2 separate regions of the Homo sapiens genome follow, and region 1 is linked to region 2. Evidence: fine-mapped expression QTL. Tissue or cell type: spinal cord. Region 2 holds a variant in brackets; the other region holds the start of a gene. All regions are shown on one strand. Distances are between the middles of the regions.

What was found. PIP is the estimated chance that this variant, and not a neighbour inherited with it, causes the effect.
Region 1: it holds the start of FSTL5, and the variant in region 2 is fine-mapped to the expression of FSTL5 in spinal cord (GTEx, PIP 0.98).

What each region holds. Positions count from the first base shown.
Region 1 is chr4:162,162,702-162,165,474 of GRCh38, reverse strand. It overlaps FSTL5 (follistatin like 5), which reads left to right and starts at 1,475. Exons shown (of 16, transcript NM_020116.5): 1 at 1,475-1,860. RefSeq lists an enhancer at 1,212-1,321.
Region 2 is chr4:161,928,581-161,931,353 of GRCh38, reverse strand. The region is part of intron 3 of FSTL5 (follistatin like 5); the gene reads left to right. Among named protein-coding and RNA genes, the nearest start is that of FSTL5-AS1, 93 kb to the left of the region's middle. The variant T/G (reference allele first, on the strand shown) is at 1,178.

The DNA of each region.
Region 1 (2,773 bases), 230 kb before region 2:
AAAGTAAATAGACTTCCTCAAATAACTTCTTAATATTAGAGAAAATAAAATGCATTATTTTTCCTGATGGGGAAATAAGTAAGTGTATTCCTTTGATTAGAGTCCCTGAAAAATGCTTGTGAGTGGATCCAGTGCTAGATGATATCAGACTCCTGGCATATGATGACACATATCAGTGTGTATGCATTCTGATGGAAAGCAATGTGTGAAATGCTATGACATTATTTGAATAAACAACCTTTTTTATTAAACATGCTTTATCCAACTTAAGAAAATTTAAGCTTAGTTTTAGATACCCACTTCTCTGTCCAAGTAAGTCATGATAGCTGTAGGTGGGACATGTGCATGGAATGTGAATAATCACCCTTCTGGATGATTGATTGCTTCAGTTCACTGAAAGTGTTTGTTTACAAGTTTAAGCAGTCTGTGGAATTTGGCATGACAGGCCCCCTTTCTCTTGCCTTCAAGGAGGCTAGAGCTTCACTGGGACAAGAAATATCACAAATACTGAGAGAATTGCTAAAGGCTATGTAAAGCTTCCAGCATAGCCCATCTTTCATAGAAATATTGATATAGTAGACATAATAAATATTGCATAACCTTCATAATTTTGGCAGTGGAAGTTGAAGCTGATAACTTTCACTTTTTATTATTTAATTTTTTTCCCTCTGGAATCTCCAAGTCTATACAGTTTGAGGATTTGTTTAAATCATGAGAATGAATAAGGAAGGTTCTGTAGGTTTTATAGGAACGCATATGAAGTATAATATATACTATGGAGCACTCGTATTTTTTTTCCTTAAGATTCTGTTTAGAAATGATGGTTAGCGCTGCAAGCTTTCACGTTTTCTCTCAGTGCTCAGAATTTTTTTTTTTTTCTTCCAGGCAAGTTTCTGCAGCAGCGACTCCCTCCAGAGGCTCCGTGAACCGAGGGAAGGGAGTAGGAACACCAAATACGGATCCGTTCAAATAACCAAATGGCAGGGAGAGGCAGCAAAGTTTGGGCAGGAAGATGAAAAGGATTGGAGATGTTTTCAAGAATGGTTGAATAGATTCATTCTATTTCTCCGTCTCCTCCCCACCCGCCTCCCACTCGGTCCTCTCCGTGCTCCACTGCCCCCTCTCTCCGCCCCGTCTTCCTTCCAGAGCTGTGCCCGCAGCGATCTTAGAGTGCGCAGAAACGGCAGTCCCCGCGAAGGCAAAGGCTCCAGCACCGTCAAAGCGTTTAGTTTCTACTGGACTGGTTGAGAATACATCCTGAAGTCCAAAGATGCCCACGCTGACGTTAAGCCTGAATTTTGTTGCCCCGATTGCCGCAGCTGACTCTAGCAGAAGCCCAGTCAAGGGGGCGGCCCCTCACCTCTCGGCGAGTTGATATGCAAAATAGTTACGTCAGATGGTGGGGGCGGGGCACCCCCGGGTTGAGTGGCAGCAGCTCCTGCCTAGGGAGGAGGAGCGAGAATCAGCCTGGTTCAGTGACTGAGACAAACTGGAGGTGAAAGGAGCTGGTACTGTCCACTGTGCTGTCGGTGCTGAACCTGAGACGCGAGCGGACCAGTTGCTCCAGCACCTGAAGGCAACGCCCTCTTGCACCCTCTGTGCCCTGTGGGACCCGCTTCACCAACAGGACCCATATCAACTTGACAAAGGAGTGTGGTATCGGACGTGGGAGAGAGTCCTCTGTTTGCCACCTGGGCGCTCATTCAGGCGTGACTTTGGAGATTTCTATAGTTTTAGACCAAACTATTTTTTTTTCCCCAGCTAAGACGATCTTTTGAGAGTTTTTTTTTTTTATTGTGATTTATATTTCCACAGCGTTTAGGAATCTTTCTGGGGGACTTTTGTGACTGTTAAAATAAGGTAAGAAAAATAATATTGTTATAAATGATTACAAGTGGGGGAGAAATACAGACTGCCATACAAAAATTTAAAAACAAGTTATGCTTATTTTTATAATTTGAAACTGGACTTTTGGCAATGATTACAAAAATATTTTAATAATTACTATTATTATTATTATTATTATTATTATTATTACAAGACAATCTGTTAGTGATTATGCACTAAATTCTAGAGGGGAAGTTGAGAGCTTTGCTTTTTGTGAAGTTGATGTCATTATGTTATATCTTGCTTTATAAATATAAATATTTTAGAGCAATACTTTCAGCAGGGTTCAAAGGATAGGAACCATTCCAGGAAACCCCCCAAATATATTAGCAAATGATGTTAAATAAATCAACCAACAAGTTGTTTAGAACAAATATAATCAAATAATTATTTGAATGGACTAGTCTCTGGTTAATCATCAATATTATTCCTATATCTAAAGCATAGACTTCAAAGTGCAGAGCTCTCTTAACATTTTTTGGAAGGGAGGAGGTAGGTATAGAAACATTTACATCATGCTGGGTCCATTTAGATGTGTTGTTATGCAGTAGATCCAAATAAAACTTGTGAAACTCAGTCTCTGAGCATTCCACACCCCAAGGTCATGTGTATTTCCAAGTTGGGGGCTGTTTGTTCTGCTGTTGACTAGCAAATGTCATCCCCTTGCAACCCCCTCAGGTTAGAGGTGGATGTAAATGGGAAGTTCTGATTTAATAATACAGTATTCGCTTGTATTATAGTCGCTTGTGCTGTTGGTAATTGAATGGAACTGGGAAGTGTGGGCTGAGAAAATGTCTCACTATTTCAGCAATGTTTAACCTCTTGCATGCTTAACAGAGAGCTTTTCTTTACTTAGAAGAATTTTCTTTTGAAGCTATGTTCCTTT
Region 2 (2,773 bases):
TCTTGTTTGACTCACACTATATTCACCTAGACCAAGGTAGTGGCTTCCTGACTCCTGTTGTTTTCTTTTCTATCCTCCACAGACTCCTTAAAGCTATTAAAGATCAGCTTCTACGGTCCCAGTGACACATCCTAAACATATTGTGCAAGGCTATTATCATCTTCTCCCTAATTCTCTAACATCTTGTAACAATCATAATCATAATCTCTCCCCTTTGGCAGCATTAGATCAACCTACTCATATATTCATACCTTTGCTTAAAATATCCTTTTACGCATCTATTGTCCACATCCCTAATTTCTATGTAGTGCCAGACTTTTCTTCTTTAGAATGCTTTCTGGGAGCCCTACTAGACAGAGTTAAGTTCCCTTCTTTTATCATAGTGGTATAATACTTTTGAGGTAGTATTTATTATTTCCCCCTTCGCCTTTGTCTAATTCAGGCAGCAGATTGACTCCGTGTCTTTTGCTCCGGGAAAGGAATATAAGCACTTGGAAATCTGAAAAAGCTTGCAATTATTCCAAACACCTAAGCTAGGGGAAATGAAATAATTCAAGGGATAAACAAAGTTTTTGGAGAAATTAGTTATGAAATGGATTTAAAACACATCTGTTGGAGCAGAGAGGTAGAGAGTTGAAGCAAATGAGTTTACGAGCATAGATAGAGCGCTTTGCATCCTGATTTTTTTTAACTATCCAAGGAACTTGAGTGATCATGTGACTAGCAACCAGAATTGTATCAGTGGTGAACCCTGTGTTCTGAACCTGAAGACACTGTATTTACTTCTTATGTTTTGCTATTTTGAAAACGCTACTAACATTGGTGTAATCCTCAAAAGAGAAAAAAAAAGCTTTAAAAATGACTGATATAATATTTTTAAACTTTCTCATGGAAGCATAGTGCTTTGCATATGGTAATAAGTTGATTCTTAGAAAATAAGGTTCTCTTTATTTCCAGTGCAAAAGTTTGTTGAAGAAATTAATGAACTAATCAGTATTTTAATTCAACCATAGAGGGGTTTGGGGAAGAAAACATTGTTAATCATTGACTCTATTTAGATTTATGCCAAAGCTAAGAATTTAGTTTTGCTGGTTTATACTGGTTTATAAGAGCTGGCTGCCCACATGTCTTCTTAAATTCAGCTGTGATGTCTTGTTTGTAGCTGCAGATCAGACAC[T/G]GTGGGAGTATTTTACAACACAGAAACCAGAGAATGCTACAAACACAGTGCCTTTTGTTAAGCACTAATCACTACATCACTGATTATGACTCAAGGCCAGAAAAACTCAGGAATTTAAAGGATCTTTCCCCAAAACTGATGTTAAGGCAACTATTATAAATATGGCTCTTAAAAAATCTGACATTGTTTCTAATGCATTAGGTGTGAAGAAAATGTGGAGTAAAAATAACCAGCCACACATCAAAAATTATAAATTTGAGGGAAAAATGAGACATCATTTAGTCCAGCACTCTGTAGAAATCCTGAATTTTTCACTTTTTCCTTACTGGATGTCAGAGAGACTGAGGGAAGCCATACCTGGGACTCACTGTCACCCCTGCTTTAATCAGAATGGTGACACTTTTGATTATTTTGTGTATTGGGCTTTTGCACTAGATGTTTTTCTAAGCTATAATTTCCAAGTTTAAACTATGTACACACACACACACACACACACACACACACACACACACACACGTGCCTACCTACATCTGCTAGAGTGGTAGTTAAGATTATGATTGAGTGTATTGTTCCAGTAATTTAGTTCACTGGCAACATTTAAAGTCACTTCCAGTTATGTACATTCCACAAAAAAATTCATAAAAATAAATATCACACAATTGAAAATCCCAGCTTACTTTTTAGATATAGACAAACGGATTCTAAAGTTTATATGGCAAAGCAAAAGATTTAGATGATCTGACAGAATATTGAAGGAGAAGAAGACAGGCATATTGAGCTATCTGACTTCAATATGTACTTTAAAGCTGCAGTAGTCAAGACAGTATGGTGCTGGAGAAAGGAAAGACAAAAAAAGAGTGATGGAACAGAGTAGAGGGCCCAGAAACAGACCCATACCATTAGAGTTAACTGATCTCTGACAAAAAAAAAAAGCAAAGCTAATTAAATGAAGAAAGGATATTCTTGTCAACAAATGGTGCTGAAGCACTGGATATCCATATTTAAAAAAGAGAAAGAAAGGAAAGAAAGAGAGAGAGCAACAGAGGGAGGGAGGGAAGGAGGGAGGAAGGAAGTAAGGAAGGAAGACAAATCTAGTCACAGACCTTATGTAATTCAAAAAAAATTCAGCTTGAATCACAAATTTAAATGCAATATGCACAACTATAAAACTCCTAGATGATCTCTATGGAGGACATCTAAGAGGCTGAGTTTGGTGAAGACATTTTAGTTACAATAACAAAGGATAATAAGTGAAAGGAAAAATTGATGAGTTGGACTTAATTATAATTAAAAATTTCTCTGCAAAAACCACTGTCATGAGATTGAGAAGACATGCTACAGATTGGGAGAAAATATTTGCAAAGACACATCCGATAACAGACTGGTACACAAAATATACAAATTCTTAAACCTTCACAATAAAAATGGGTAAATACTAAAATCAACATCTCACTGAAGATGATTTGCAAATGGTAAACAAACATATGAAAATACGCTCAATCAATCTTATGTTATGATTATGGAATTGCAAATTAAAACTTCAAGATACCACAACTACCTAATTGAATGGTAAAAATCCAAAACATTGCAGACACT